4 linked regions of the Homo sapiens genome follow. The protein of the gene in region 2 purifies or fractionates together with the protein of the main gene of each other region. This does not show direct contact. Each region holds a gene or a part of one and is shown on either strand. Other genes may lie near its edges.

What was found.
Region 1: the proteins of PCDHGB4 (region 2) and ST7L purify together in Homo sapiens (affinity purification with mass spectrometry; 2 studies listed by BioGRID and IntAct, with this or other methods). This does not show direct contact.
Region 3: the proteins of PCDHGB4 (region 2) and LETM1 purify together in Homo sapiens (affinity purification with mass spectrometry; 2 studies listed by BioGRID and IntAct, with this or other methods). This does not show direct contact.
Region 4: the proteins of PCDHGB4 (region 2) and CELSR3 purify together in Homo sapiens (affinity purification with mass spectrometry; 2 studies listed by BioGRID and IntAct, with this or other methods). This does not show direct contact.

What each region holds. Positions count from the first base shown.
Region 1 is NC_000001.11:112,584,642-112,588,141, forward strand, and holds part of ST7L (suppressor of tumorigenicity 7 protein-like), read right to left. Parts: intron 1-3,500.
Region 2 is NC_000005.10:141,385,774-141,391,371, forward strand, and holds the start of PCDHGB4 (protocadherin gamma-B4 isoform 1 precursor), read left to right. Parts: upstream 1-1,924; 5' UTR 1,925-2,111; coding exon 2,112-4,508; coding exon of another isoform or gene 4,509-4,523; intron 4,524-5,598. UniProt on the Homo sapiens protein: Potential calcium-dependent cell-adhesion protein. May be involved in the establishment and maintenance of specific neuronal connections in the brain.
Region 3 is NC_000004.12:1,814,657-1,818,156, forward strand, and holds part of LETM1 (mitochondrial proton/calcium exchanger protein precursor), read right to left. Parts: intron 2,259-3,500; coding exon 2,071-2,258; intron 1,147-2,070; coding exon 1,008-1,146; intron 1-1,007. UniProt on the Homo sapiens protein: Plays an important role in maintenance of mitochondrial morphology and in mediating either calcium or potassium/proton antiport. Mediates proton-dependent calcium efflux from mitochondrion.
Region 4 is NC_000003.12:48,645,887-48,649,386, reverse strand, and holds part of CELSR3 (cadherin EGF LAG seven-pass G-type receptor 3 precursor), read left to right. Parts: intron 1-171; coding exon 172-266; intron 267-458; coding exon 459-668; intron 669-925; coding exon 926-1,121; intron 1,122-1,390; coding exon 1,391-1,546; intron 1,547-2,458; coding exon 2,459-2,624; intron 2,625-3,129; coding exon 3,130-3,297; intron 3,298-3,500. UniProt on the Homo sapiens protein: Receptor that may have an important role in cell/cell signaling during nervous system formation.

The sequences.
Region 1 (3,500 bases), on a different chromosome or scaffold from region 2:
CACGCCCGGCTAATTTTTGTATTTTTAGTAGAGATGGGGTTTCAACATGTTGGCTAGGCTGGTCTAGAACTCCTGATCTCAGGTGATCCACCTGCCTCAGCTTTCCAAAGTGCTGGGATTACAGGCGTGAGCCACCATGCCCGGTTGATCATACCTGCTTTTAGTCGCTATATAATTTATGACATCCATTTCATGGGGCAGGTATGGGGAGGGTGAAGATTGGGAAGATAGTCCCTTGGCCAACTAGGCACTTTTAACATCTGACTCAGAAACATAGTCCAGGACTAGACATTTTCCCCAAATCTGAGTACTCCCCTCTGCATGCTGTCCCATCCACACATGGACTTATCCACAATATTATGCAGTATAACTTCCCTTGTTCTGAATTCAGGTCCTTCCTCCTACACTCCTATTCTCATTCCTCAAAACTATGCTTATGCCAAGTTTTCTTTTCTTCACCCCACTAAAACACAGAGGCTTTTCTTTGTATCTTTTAAGTCAACACCTGGCTAATAAACTAATGCTTGTTTTGGGGCCACAAAGAGAAACAAAATGTTGTTATTCCATTCCCAGAAATAACAAATCCATCTCTTCTACAGACAATATCCTAGTTGTGATTATCTAAGACGGCACTGTCCAGTATTCTAGGCATTAGCCACATGTGGTTATTGAGCACTTGAAATGTGATGCGTCTGAATTGAGATGTGATGCAAGTGTAAAAATGCACAACGAATTTTGAAGACTTAGAAGAATGTAAAGTTCTTCATTAACAGATTTTAGAAAAGTACTGACTATATGTTAAAATAGTTTAATATTTTGGGCCGGGCGCGGTGGCTCATGCCTGTAATCCCAGCACTTTGGGAGGCCGAGGCGGGCGGATCACGAGGTCAGGAGATCGAGACCACGGTGAAACCCTGTCTCTACTAAAAAAAATACAAAAAATTAGCTGGGCGCAGTGGCGGGTGCCTGTAGTCCTAGCTACTTGAGAGGCTGAGGCAGGAGAATGGCATGAACCTGGGAGACGGAGCTTGCAGTGAGCCAAGATTGCACCACTGCACTCCAGCCTGGGTGACAGAGTGAGACTCCGTCTCAAAAAAAAAAAAAAATTAATATTTTGAATATAGCTAAATAAAACATTATTCAGATTAATTTCACCTATTTCTTTTTACTTTTTAAATGTGGCTACTAGAAAATTTAAAGTTACATATGTGGCTTGCATTATATTTCTAATAATTAGTGCTTATCTCAGCAAGAGGAGAGAAATTATTGATAAACGTACAAGACCAAGCATTAAACAAAAGTGATGGCAGGTAGCTATCGTTAAGTGGGGACAAAAACGTTCTTCAGTTATAGAAAATGCAAATCATACCATTTCATCATCCTTCAAATAAGAAGACCCTATAATACATAACAATTTCACTAATCAACAAAGATTTCTCCATTACATTACACTAGATCCCTGTGAAGCATTAGATACACTGCTGCTTTAAACACTGGCCTTCCTGCCCAGGCACAGTGGCTCATGGCTATAATCCCAGCAGTTTGGGAGGCCAAGGCAGGAGGATCACTTGAGGCCAGTAGTTCGAGACTAGCCTGGGCAACACAACGAGACCCTCTCTCTATAAAACAATAATAATAAAGATTTAAAAATTAGCTGGGTGTGGTTGTGTGCACCTGTAGTCCTAGTTACTTTGGAGGCTGAGGCAAGAGGATTGCTTAAGGCCAGGAGTTTGAGGTTACAATGAAGCTATCATCCTACCACTGCACTCCAGCCTGGGCAACAGAGCAAGACCCTGTCTCTAAACAAAAACAAAAATCAAAAACACTAGGCTTCCTGACTGCCATTCCAAAAACCGACTGAAATATTTTAAAATAACCATAATAAAAACAGTTTTTAAAAGACCTAGATGGGTATAAATCAAAATATAAACATAATTATATGCTTATATTTTGAATGTATATACTTTTAATGACTGTATGGATATATGGTGAAAAGATTTTTTCCCCCTTAAAGTTTTCTTGGATTTGTTCAAAAGTATTTTATATGGATACTAATTCAGGAAATTCATTATGTGAATACCTAATTAATCTTACTTTGAAGAATGTTGGTTTTTTACATTGAGGTAAAATTCAAATAACAAGGTTCACAGTTTAAAGCATTTTGAAGTATACAATTCAATAATTTTTAATATATTCACAGAGTTGTGCAACCATCGCCACAATGTAATTCCAGGACATTTTCATCATCCCCACAAGAAACTTCATACCTATTAAGTAGTCACTCCCCATCTCCCTTGCCTCCTCAATCCCTGGCAATCCCAAATCTATTTCTGCCTCTTGACAATGTCCTCTGATGCATAAAATATTTTAACTTTGATAAAGTCCATTTACCTGATTTTTCTTTTGCTGCTTGTACTTTTGGTGTTATAATTTATGAGACCACTGCTAAATTCAAGGTGATGATGATTTGTCCCTATGCTTTCTTCTAAGAGTTCTGTAGTTTTAACTCTTCCATTTAGGTCCTTGATTGATTTTTAAATTAATTGGGATATATGGTATGAGGTAAGGGACCACCTTTATGCTTTTATGTATGTGGCTATTCAGTTCTTCCACCATCATTGTTGAAAAGACTATTCTTTCCTCCACTGAATGGTTTTGACGCCCTTGTCAAAAATCATGGCCAGGCGTGGTGGCTCACACCTGTAATCTCAGCACTTTGGGAGGCTGAGGTGGGTGGATCACCTGATGTCAGGAGTTCAAGACCAGCCTGGCCAACATGGTGAAACCTTGTCTCTACTCTAAAAATACAAAATTAGCCGGGTATGGTGGCACGTGCCTGTATTCCCAGCTACTTGGGAGGCTGAGGCAGAAGAATCACTTGAACCCAGGAGGTGGAGGTTGCAGTGAGCCGAGATCGTGCCATTGCACTCCAGCCTGGGCAAAAAGAGTGAAACTCTGTCTCAGAACAAAACAAAACAAAACCATCAACTGACCATAGATAATATGGGTTTATTTCTGGAATCTCAATTTGAATCCATTGATCTAGGTGTCTATCCTTGTAATTTAACTACTGTAGCTTTGCGGTAAGTTTTTAAATTGTGTAGTGTGAGTCTTCTAATTTTGTGCTTCTATTTCAAGATTGTTTTGGTATTCAGGGTCTCTTGCAGTTCTGTATGAATTATAGGATCGCCTTGTCCATTTCTGCAGAAATGATAATTAAAATTTTTATAGGGATTGCACTGAATCCGTAGATCAATTTAGGGAGTACTGACATTCTAACAATAATGTCTCCCAATCCATGAACATGGGATGTCTTTTGATTTATTTATTTAACTTATGCTTTATAGTTTTCAGCATCCAAGTCTTGCACCTCCTTGATTAAATTTATTCCTAAGTATTTAAATCTTTCTGATGCTTTTGTAAATGGAATTGTTTTCTTAATTTCCTTTTCAGATTGTTCATTGCTAGGATATAGACATACAACTGATTTTCATATGTTG
Region 2 (5,598 bases):
CATGTACCTCAGCTTGGTGGTCCTAAAAAATCTTGATTGCTTCTTGACCTATTTACAGTATAATCATTTATTAATGGGGTGGTAGTAGAAGGTTGGATTTATGCCTAAAGAATGAAATGTGTGTGTATCACACTTCACTAAGATCTATATCAAAGACAGACATCAAGTCTAATGCCACACTAAAGGCCATCGGACAAAACCAATAAAATATGTCAAATAAAATGTCATTTTAAGTGTTGTAATTGGCATTTGTGACATAGGCAATTACATGTTTTAACAGAGAATTCCAGTATGTTGTTTTAGTGGTACAGCCAGATGAAGTGTGTCTGTGGGCTATCAAAGTGGGAGATTGGGGATACTGGCTTTGTTTCAACTGTCTCACGTACTCAAACCTTAGACCATCTTATGTACACAGATCCTAGACCAGTAGTTGATTTTATTTATTAGGTCTACTGAAAAATTCAGTTGGAAATAACCCAATCTGGGATTAACTACTTCCATATTCTTTTGTATAACATTTTAGTAAAGCTCAGTATATCAAGTGATTGTCATCCAGAAGGGGTGGATGACAAGGTAATCTTGATTCCAGAGACCTTTGAGTATTAATTAAAAACACACTTTTAGCCAGGTATGGTGTTGCAAGCTGTAGCCCACCTGCATGGGAGGCTGAGGCAAGAGGACAGCTTGAACCCAAGAATTGGAGGCCCACCTAGATAATATAACAAGACTCTGTCTCTTCAAAAAAAGACTCTTTTTAGACTAGTGTTGTATTTGGTAGTATTTTGCACATGATAGACTCTGTACAATAGTGTGGGGGATACATTTTTTTTTTTTGACATGGAGTCTCGCTCTGTCACCCAGGCTGGATACATTTTACAAGTTCTGCAGTGTTCACATTTCAGATGTACAATCACTTGGGGTAGAAGACAATGTTGCTGACACCAACAATGTTACTGAGGGAAGATCCTATGGCAGAACTACGGTTATAAGGTATTTTGTAAAAGAAAATCTCCTGACCAAAATTTATTAGATGCATAAAATTGTTTTTAAGCAATGGAGAGACATAATCACTAAACTCAGTGAGCTATTGCAATCAAACTTTCCAGGGATTGTTTCCTTCAATTCAGAGGTCACCAAGGAATGTAAAATAAGTGCAGAGGTAGGAAGCAGTGCTTCAGTGCAGCAGATCTCAGTGACTTTGTGTTTTGAGGCTATGTATTATCCCCCTGATAACTTTGAAGATGAATGTTGTATTTCATAACCAGTAAAATAATTGTGTAATGAGGAGAGGAGTAGGCTACTGCCTGTGATCATCGAAATGAGAATCACATAATATTCCTGTAATGAAATCACTGAAACTATTGGGAAGGGGGTGTATTTGAAGATAAGTATAAATTGCACCTTCTAAAAGGCAATTTTGGTATTACTGATACTCTCCGGAAAAAGTTGAAATAAATCAACTTGGAGGTACTTAGAAAAGTGGAGAAAATGTTAGGAACAATGAAAGAAAGATAAAATGTATCCAGTATATTTCTAATGAGTAAGTATGGAAAATTACTGTACTCTGAGACGGTTTAGGCCAAGTCTGTGTTATGGCTATCTTTATATAGATAGTGCATGTTTGAAGATTGGGGAAAGCTTATGTCAATAAATGTTTATGTACTTAATCTACATGATTTGCCTAAAAATCCTCAAAGTTGGGATGAAGGCATTCCTAAGAGTACATTTTTAGACGTCATTAAATATACAGACGTATCCACGTAGTTTTTGTTCTTTCAGTTAGGCACACAATTATAATTATTGCACTGGTTAACTTGAAGCAGCAGAGGCTGTAGTTTCCTAGTGCTGACTCTGGGCGCCGCTGTTGGCCAAAGTGGAGAGCTTGGCGCTCCAGATCTCCTCGCGCAGCCGCAGCGCGCTTTCCAGGGCAGCCCCAGCTCAGACTCCCCAGCGCCAGCCTTTACACCGCTTCCTCCTCGGAAAAAGAAGAATTTTTTCTTGAACTGGAACTGCAACTAAAGTCCGTTCGGAGATCCAAAAATCTGCAATACAGAGGTTATTTGTAACCCGGCGTCTCCAGGCTGGTGAGCAAGCTGAGGAGAGCAAGAGGGATGGGGAGCGGCGCCGGGGAGCTGGGCCGGGCTGAGAGGCTGCCAGTGCTCTTTCTCTTCCTGCTGTCTTTGTTCTGCCCGGCGCTCTGTGAGCAGATCCGCTACAGGATTCCCGAGGAAATGCCCAAGGGCTCCGTAGTGGGGAACCTCGCCACGGACCTGGGGTTCAGCGTCCAGGAGTTACCGACTCGAAAACTGCGCGTCAGTTCGGAGAAGCCTTACTTCACCGTGAGCGCAGAGAGCGGGGAGTTGCTTGTGAGCAGCAGGCTAGACAGGGAGGAGATATGCGGGAAGAAGCCAGCTTGTGCTCTGGAATTTGAGGCTGTTGCTGAAAATCCACTGAACTTTTATCACGTGAATGTGGAGATCGAGGACATTAATGACCACACGCCAAAATTCACGCAAAATTCCTTTGAGCTGCAAATAAGTGAGTCTGCACAGCCTGGCACACGATTTATATTAGGATCTGCCCATGATGCGGATATTGGTAGCAACACACTGCAGAATTACCAACTCAGTCCCAGTGATCATTTCTCACTGATAAATAAAGAGAAATCAGATGGCAGTAAATACCCTGAGATGGTATTGAAGACACCTTTGGACAGAGAAAAGCAGAAATCCTACCACTTGACTTTGACTGCCTTGGACTTTGGAGCTCCACCCCTAAGCAGCACTGCACAGATACACGTTCTAGTGACTGATGCCAATGATAATGCTCCAGTGTTCAGTCAAGACGTATACAGGGTGAGCCTTTCAGAAAACGTGTACCCGGGGACCACGGTGCTACAGGTGACTGCCACGGACCAGGATGAGGGTGTCAATGCCGAGATTACTTTCTCTTTCAGTGAAGCTAGCCAGATCACCCAATTTGACCTGAACTCTAACACCGGGGAAATTACTGTTTTAAATACATTAGATTTTGAAGAAGTCAAAGAATATTCCATAGTTTTGGAAGCAAGGGACGGTGGAGGAATGATTGCGCAATGCACAGTGGAGGTAGAAGTCATAGATGAAAATGACAACGCCCCAGAAGTGATATTCCAGTCTCTACCCAACCTAATTATGGAGGACGCCGAGCTGGGAACACATATTGCTTTGCTCAAAGTCCGTGACAAGGATTCCAGACACAATGGAGAAGTGACTTGTAAATTGGAAGGTGATGTTCCATTTAAAATATTAACTTCTTCAAGAAACACGTATAAATTAGTGACAGATGCTGTTCTAGACCGCGAGCAGAATCCAGAGTACAATATAACCGTTACGGCAACAGATCGGGGCAAGCCTCCCCTCTCCTCCAGTTCCAGCATCACCCTGCACATTGGTGATGTAAATGACAACGCTCCGGTTTTCTCACAGTCTTCCTATATAGTCCACGTGGCCGAGAACAACCCGCCTGGAGCCTCTATTTCACAAGTCAGGGCTTCTGATCCGGACTTGGGGCCCAACGGCCAAGTCTCTTACTGCATCATGGCCAGTGACCTGGAGCAGCGGGAGCTGTCATCCTACGTGTCCATAAGCGCGGAGAGCGGGGTGGTGTTCGCGCAGCGCGCCTTCGACCACGAGCAGCTGCGCGCCTTCGAACTCACACTGCAGGCCCGCGACCAGGGCTCGCCAGCGCTCAGCGCGAACGTGAGCCTGCGCGTGTTAGTGGACGACCGCAACGACAATGCGCCACGGGTGCTGTACCCCGCGCTGGGTCCCGACGGCTCTGCGCTCTTCGATATGGTGCCGCACGCTGCAGAGCCTGGCTACTTGGTGACCAAGGTAGTGGCGGTGGACGCAGACTCAGGACACAACGCCTGGCTGTCCTACCACGTGCTGCAGGCTAGCGAGCCCGGGCTCTTCAGCCTGGGGCTGCGCACGGGCGAAGTGCGCACAGCGCGTGCCTTAGGCGACAGGGACGCCGTCCGCCAGCGCCTTCTGGTCGCCGTGCGTGACGGTGGACAGCCACCACTCTCGGCCACTGCCACGTTGCACCTGGTCTTCGCCGACAGCTTGCAGGAGGTGCTGCCGGATATCACTGACCGCCCCGACCCCTCTGACCTCCAGGCTGAGCTGCAGTTTTACCTAGTGGTGGCCTTGGCCTTGATCTCAGTGCTCTTCCTCGTGGCCATGATTCTGGCCATTGCCTTGCGCCTGCGACGCTCCTCCAGCCCCGCCTCCTGGAGCTGCTTCCAGCCTGGTCTCTGTGTTAAATCCGAATCCGTGGTTCCCCCCAACTACAGCGAGGGGACTTTGCCTTATTCCTACAATCTATGTGTTGCACATACAGGAAAGACGGAGTTTAATTTCCTAAAATGTAGTGAGCAGTTGAGTTCAGGACAAGACATACTTTGCGGTGATTCATCTGGGGCCTTATTTCCACTTTGTAATTCCAGTGAATTGACTTCCCATCAGGTGAGTTTCCTTTAAGTATAATTTAATGCTCATTGCCTACCCATTTCTCCATATTCACAAGAAAATATACATATTTGCAGGAAAATATATAATTTTTAGATGTCATGGATCATTTTAGGAAAGTTGTAGTCAGTTAAAAAGCTGTCATATCATTCTACAAAGGAGGAGTAAAGTAGGAGCAATTGTGTGGCCCAACATTTGTTTGTTTTTTAGCCAAGCTTAGATTTATAAAGCAATGAGGGTGTGGTTTTAACCACAAAGTGAAAGTGTTAGACAGTTGTTGGCTCTCTCCTAAAAAGTGAATGAGATTTTTCCTATACATTTTCCTTCTTGTTGACTAATATATGATGAATACTTTTTTCAGCTTGGATATACCATAAATATAAAAATAATAAAGCCAAAGAATTTAAGCTAAAATTCAACACTTTTCTTAACTAATTTAACTGGTATGGTCTCCATAGTAGTCCACTGTTTTGTTTCCTGTGTTAACTTCCCTTTTGTTTCAAAAGCTCTTAGAATAAGGAGTCAACTGGATTTTTATGTCCATGGACCCCTTGTGATTATATGCAGTGTACGCTGTGTGTGCGTGTGTGTGTGTGTGTGTGTGAGAGAGATCCTTTTACTTAGAAAAAGGTCTACTATGCTCATTAGAAGATCAAAAGCAGATTCTCCTTACTTGTAACATAGGAGTTTCAGGATTAATCTGTATTCAAGCTCATTCTATATCCTTCATCAAAGAAAAGACAATGTTTTGTGTCTGTTGTCCCTCTCACACACAGCCCTAATATATAATGTGTAACTGCCTTATCTGCAGCCCTAAACTAATATAGCTAGAGGTCTTCTAATCATTCTCCTACCTCTAGGAAAGAAATATAGTCTTGAAAACTGCCAATCTGGTGTGCATACAAAATATATACAAAATACCAAGGAACATTATATGAGCCTTTTGCTAGGTATATCTAAGCAACTGCTTCAGTTAATGGCCACTTTACAAATTGCTGAAAGAAGGAAACGTCTTTCGATTCTTTTTTTTTTCTTTTTTTTTTTTTGAGACAGAGTCTCTGTCTGTTACTCAGGCTGTAGTGCAGTG
Region 3 (3,500 bases), on a different chromosome or scaffold from region 2:
CCCCAGCTGGGGTGGCAGCAGCATGCACGCAATCACTGCCTGCGGGCCCCAGGGTCCTCAGAGCACCAATTCCCCCAAGGGGTGCCACAGACCCTGGGGAAGGGGCTCAGAGTGGGAGGACAAAGGAGCCAGGGGGCTGCCTTGACAGGTGGCAGACAGCACAATGGGGCTGCCAGGGTCAAGTTCCTGCTCTGGCCAGGAACCTGGGCCATGGCTTCCCAGGGCAGAGTGGGGTGACATGCAGGGACCTTGTCCCCACTCTGCCACCCAGACTAGCAGGGAAGGGAAGGGCAGCTGTGCAGTAGATACATGATCCTTGCTTCCAAACTGAACTGCAAGAAACCAGCCAACACTTCTGTTAGACGTCTGGAAAATCACTAACCTGATGCATGCACCGGGAGCCACGAGGCAGCTTCCCCTCAGAGATGTCAGTGATTGGGAAAATTGGTGTGCGCACTCAGGCTAGAGCCCTGCCTTCCCTCCAGAGACTGGATCCTGGGCCAGGGTCTCCGGGGCTACCCTGGAACCTGAGTGGCTGCACTTGGGAGCTCAGCCCAGCAGTCACCTCTCAGCCTTGGGGCGGTGCCCAAGCTGCCCCGCGGCTCCCCTGTGTAGTTGCCTCTCAGCTTTGGGGGCCCCCGGCAGGTGTGAAGTGCCCCCAGGCTCCCTGTGCAGTCGCCCCTCAGCGTCGGGGGCCCCTGAGAGGTGTTTGCTGCACCCCCCCGGCTCCCCAGTGCCACCAGCTGGGGGCGGGGTCCAGGGACATGCGTAGCCACTAGGTGCGTTTTCTCTCTCAACACTTGAGTTGTAACTTCAATAATTTCTCACTTCTGATGTTTCAAATGAGAGCAGCGGCTTAAAGGAGCAGTCGCAGTGACAGACCCAAACCCCTGACAGGAGGGGGTAGCTGCCCAGGAGGGTGCCGGACATGCAATGAACAGTCCCCCTGCCCCACCCCACTCCAGAGCAGGTGGCGGATGGCCTGCGTGGTCCCCAGCGAGGCCCACCTTGACGAGGTCGTCGATGTTGACCTTGCCATCCTTGTTTTCATCCAGTGCTGCGGCCAGGCTGGTGAGCTTGCTTTCGGGAATGTGCTTGACTTGCTTCATGGCGTTGATGAGCTCAGCGACACTGATGACGTTCTCCCTGTGGAAGCACAGCCTGCATGTGGCCACGGGCAGGCGTCCTGCCACACAGGGCCTCACTGCCCACACCTGTGGCTGCAAGTGGTCAGCACTGACACAGGCGGCTCCGCGTGAGCCAGGCAACCTCCAGCACGGACCCCCAAGGTATGATCCCATCCTGCATACAATGCCAAGAGCTCCCAGGGCCAGCGTGGACACAAACACAGAAACACCACCAGGTCCAGGGTTTCCACGGGCATGTCTGCCCCTCAGTGGCTGCCCCTCTGGGGCCATGGCTGCTGGGCTGTTGTCCTCAGGCCTGTGGCCACTTGGCAATACGTTCACGATCATGGGGGCTGTGGTGCCCTGGGCAGATGAGGGCCTCCAAGAGCAGGGACGAGAGCATGAGCAGGGTGCCACGTGCAGCCCACCTACAACACTGTGGGTGTGGAGGTGGAGATTTGGAACCTGCAGGGCACCAGCAGTCACCCAACAGCTGTTTCATTCGCCCAGAAGGGACTCACAAAACGGCAGCTCCCTCAGCCACTGCTGCGCAGGAATCTGGGACATGTCGGGCACAGAGAAGGCCGACTGCCCGAGCTGGTGTCATTACTGAGCGTGGGTGGGGTCAGGAAGAGGGAGAGGCAAGAGAGAGCCTGGTAATTAGAGGAAACAGAAGCCAACAGAGGTGGAGGTTGGAGCGGGAGGAGAGGGGGCTGTGGGAAGAGGAAGAGGGGCCAGGAAGGGACGAACTGCTCTCGGAGAGGCAGAGACTGACATGCCAGAGGGTTCCTGGCTGGGACTGCTGGTCAAAGGTGGAGAGGCAGCCAGGCAGAGGCTACAATGTGCCCTTTGGAGCCAGAAGGGCCCAGCTCGGATCCAGCAAAGGGACCAGCCTCCCTATGTGAGTCTCCGATCCCTCTCCCGCGCCCACCACCCCACTCACCCCGTGGGCATGCCGTTGGCCGGGGCCAGCTTGCCAGCCTGCTGGTCCATCTCCAGCTGCGAGATCAAGCCATCGATCTGCCCGATCATTTGCTGCACCCTTTTTGTCAATCTCTTGCTGGCTTTAGATTCTTCCACGTACTTTTCTTCACCAGTCTTTGAAAGTTCCTTCTTGATCTCCTGCAAGTCCTAATAAAATTATTTTGGTTGTAAAAAGTTTGTCTTAAAAGAAAAAGGGGGTCAGGTGTAGTGGCTCACGCCTGTAATCCCAGTACTTTGCAAGGCCAAGGCGGGCGGATCACCTGAGGTTAGGAGTTCGAGACCAGCCTGGCCAATGTGGTGAAACCCCGCCTCTACTAAAAATACAAAAATTAGCTGGGCATGATGGCAGGCACCTGTAATCCAGTTACTTGGGAGGCTGAGGCAGGAGAATCGCTTGAACCCAGGAGGCAGAGGCTGCAGTGAGCCAAGACCATGCCAACGCACTCCAGCCTGGGCAACAGAGCGAGACTCTGTCTCCAAAAAAAAAAAAAAAAAAAAAAAGAATCTGGTTGGGCACAGTGACTCATGCCTGTAATCCCAGAACTTTGGGAGGCCAAGGCAGGAGGATCACTTGAGGACAGGAGTTCGAAACCAGACCAGGCAACATAGCAAGACTTTATCTCTACCAAAATTCAAACAAAAAATTAGCCAGGCGTGGTGGTGCACACCTGTAGTGCCAGCTACCCAGGAGTCTGAGACAGGAGGATGGCTTGAGCCCAGGAGGTGGAGGCTGCAGTGAGCCAAGATCACATCACTGCACTTCAGCCTGAGTGACAGAGCGAGACCCTATCTCAAACAACAACAAAAAAAGGTAATAAATTAACTTGTAAAGGTAATTAAACCCATTAATTCAAACCAGAGAGTTATAAAATTGTATTTCTATCATACAAATTTCTTATTTTTGTACACTGCCTTGCAAGCAAAAGACATAGAATCTATTCTGAATCTCAATTTCCTTCACATTTGTTAAAGAAAAATTAAGTGAACTAATTAATCAAGGAAATTAAGTGTCTTTGTTTTTTGAGATAGGGTCTTGCTCTGTCACCCAGACTGGAGTAAAGTGGCATGATCTCAGCTCACTGCAGCCTCCAACTCCCAGCCTCCCACTCCCAAGCAATCCTCCTGCCTCAGTCTCTGGAGTAGCTGGGAGTACAGGCACACAACATCATGCCTGGCTAATTTTTGTATTTTTTGCAGAAATGGTGTTTCACCATGTTGCCCAGGCCGGTCTCAAACTCCTGAGCTCAAGTGATCCTCCTGCCTTGACCTCCCAAAGTGCTGGGATTACAGGCCTGAGCCACCAGTGCCCAGCCTTAAGTGTCTTTTTAAATTCCAAGTTGTTTTTTTCCCACGAGTAAACACCATGAGGAAGAATGGGGAAGGCGAGGG
Region 4 (3,500 bases), on a different chromosome or scaffold from region 2:
CAGCTGGGGCCTACCTGGGCTTGGGCCGCTACCTCCAGGGGTGCAGCTATAGATGCTCATGACTCTGACTTCTGCCTCAGGGATTCCCCCAGCATAGGAGAGGGTGCTGCGGTTATCTCCTCAGCAAAGGTATCCAGGCCCCAGGCCTGACCAGGGGTTGCCTGCCTCCAGGTGCTGCTGTGCGGCTGTGTGATGAGGCCCAGGGTTGGCTGGAGCCCGACCTCTTCAACTGTACCTCCCCTGCCTTTCGAGAGCTCAGTCTGCTGGTGAGACTGCCCAGACCTTTTCCTGCAACCTAAGACCTTCCTTGGCCTGTGGTGGGCCCCAGATACCACACCCTAGCCCTTGAACTCCTGAGCCTTTCCTGGTTGCCCTTTAATCTGGCAAGGCTTTCTCCCTGTGAAGCTTTAGAGGAAGGCCTAAGGGACCACAGAGCAACCATCTCCTTGTCTTGGCAGCTGGATGGCCTAGAGCTGAACAAGACGGCACTGGATACCATGGAGGCCAAGAAGCTGGCTCAGCGGCTACGGGAGGTGACTGGCCACACTGACCACTATTTTAGCCAAGATGTTCGAGTCACTGCCCGCCTGCTGGCCCACCTGCTGGCCTTCGAGAGCCATCAGCAGGGCTTCGGGCTGACAGCCACACAGGATGCCCACTTCAATGAGGTGGGGCTGTGCCCTATGTTCTCAGTGCCTTGGCCCCCCAGCTCCCAGCCTCCTGCCCCTGGATCCCCAGCTCAGGCTCCTGCTGTTCTCTTGGGAAGTGAAGGTCCTGGGCTCTCCCTCTGTCCTTGTCCTCTCCAGCCCCGCCCCCTTGCCTGTTGGAGCCCCTCTGAGCACCTGTCCAGACCTCTCATGCCTGCCCTATCCCCTCATACATCCTCACCACCTGGCTGAACCCAATTCTATCTCTGTCTTCCCAGAATCTGCTGTGGGCCGGCTCTGCACTGCTTGCCCCAGAGACAGGGGACTTGTGGGCGGCGCTGGGGCAGCGGGCCCCTGGGGGCTCCCCAGGCAGCGCGGGACTGGTGAGGCACCTGGAGGAGTATGCAGCCACACTCGCAAGGAATATGGAACTCACATACCTGAATCCCATGGGGCTGGTGACGCCTAATATCAGTGCGTTGTGGGTGGGGTAGGGCGGGGCACAGCAGGGGGGCCATGAAAGGGCAGGTACCTGAAGGTCTGAGGGGCTGTGGCTATCAATGCCAATGTTAATGGCAGGAGACTCAGCCACCGCCCTCAGCGTTTTGTAGGGACAGGCTCCGAGCTGGTAGCACAGAAAACAGATTGTGGGACTCAGGTGCGGGATGCGAGTAAGAGGGAGTAGAACCCTTGGCAGGGGGAAGAGGTCCATGATGGGCCTCCCCTTTCTTTCTCCTGGGTAGTGCTCAGCATTGACCGCATGGAGCACCCCAGTTCTCCCCGGGGGGCCCGTCGCTACCCTCGCTACCATAGCAACCTCTTTCGAGGCCAGGATGCCTGGGATCCTCACACCCATGTGCTGCTGCCTTCCCAGTCCCCACGGCCATCCCCATCTGAAGGTGAGAGCCCCTAGGGGACCCCTGGGCCAAGTCCTGTCTCTCTGTCCCCCCAACCAGATACTATGTTGCCCTCCTGCCAATTTTCCCCTTTCTAGACCTCCCCAGTGTCAGACCCTCCCACATCTCCCCTCCACCCTCCCTCCCATATTTCCCCTCCACCCTCCCTCCCACATCTCCCCTCCACCCTCCCACATCTCCCCTCCACCCTCCCTCCCACATCTCCCCTCCACCCTCCCTCCCACATCTCCCCTCCACCCTCCACCCTCCCACATCTCCCCTCCACCCTCCCTCCCACATCTCCCCTCCACCCTCCCTCCCACATCTCCCCTCCACCCTCCCTCCCACATCTCCCCTCCACCCTCCACCCTCCCACATCTCCCCTCCACCCTCCACCCTCCCACATCTCCCCTCCACCCTCCCTCCCACATCTCCCTTCCACCCTCCCTCCCACATCTCCCTTCCACCCTCCACCCTCCCACATCTCCCCTCCACCCACCACCCTGCCTCTCACATCTCCCCTCCACCCTCCACCCTCCCTCCCACATCTCCCCTCCACCCTCCACCCTCGACCCTCCCACATCTCCCCTCCACCCTCCACCCTCCCACATCTCCCCTCCACCCTCCACCCTCCCACATCTCCCCTCCACCCTCCCACATCTCCCCTCCACCCTCCCTCCCACATCTCCCCTCCACTGTCCACCTTGCCACACCTTCACTTTGTCAGAGCCTCTCCCTCATCACAAATGACCCCTCCCAGGCCTTGACTGTTACTTTCTGGGTTCATGCTCCCTGCACTCCCCAATTCTGCTCCTGCAGGGAAGAGACCCCCATGCTTGATCGGGTTCAGAGCTGGGTTGGTGGGTGCTTTGGGTCAAAGGTCACTGACAGAAGCTCCTCCTTCTCTCCTGGCAGTTCTGCCCACAAGCAGCAGCATAGAAAACTCCACCACCTCAAGTGTGGTCCCCCCACCAGCCCCGCCAGAGCCAGAGCCTGGGATCTCCATTATCATTCTCCTCGTTTACCGCACCTTAGGGGGACTGCTCCCTGCCCAGTTCCAGGCAGAACGCCGAGGTGCCAGGTACTCAGGCCCCTCACCCCTGAGCTTCCTACGAACTTCTCAGCCTGGCAGCCCCTTTTTTGGTGGGTAGATGCGTAGGTTCACAACACACAGAGAGGAGCACAGCTCCAGGGAGCCCCATCCTTGCCGGGTTCTGTGTGAATCTTATTCTCTGGAGTTGTGCAGAGTGACAGAGCCACAGGCTGACAGACACAGAGCCACACACAGGAGGGATCCATGAGCCAGGTACAGACAGACCAAAGGGCTGACAGAGACAGACAAGGACAGGCTGACTGATGGGGGTAGGAGGGAGGGCAATCAGAGGCAAACAGTTGCAGGTCCCCTGGAGCTGCTCAGCCCCTCAGCAGCCCAGCAGAAGCTGGAGGGATTCTTAGAAACAGCTTCCACTCTGGGGACATCCCAGACCCTGGGTCAGCCCTGGCGAGTGGCATGAAGACGGGGTGAGGCAAGCAGGCTGAGCATGGGGAGGTCAGCAGTGCGTAAGCCCAGATGGGTGTCTCCCCAGGCTTCCTCAGAACCCCGTCATGAACTCCCCGGTGGTCAGCGTGGCTGTGTTCCACGGACGCAACTTCCTAAGGGGAATCCTGGAGTCCCCCATCAGCCTAGAGTTTCGCCTGCTACAGACAGCGAATCGGAGCAAGGCGATCTGTGTGCAGTGGGACCCACCTGGCCTGTGAGGACCCCCATTCTGGAAACCCTTGGTCCCGTTAGCCCTTGGGAGGCCAACTAATAGTCCCAGCCTTCCCCTGGGGCCCCCACTAGTGCTGTTGTGCAACCCGGACCATGAGGAATGCTGTACCCCAACTCCAGGCACCCTCAGCCCTTCCCATGATCTCTCACAAACCCCTGCCTGACACTGGGTCACAGTTGTGTCTA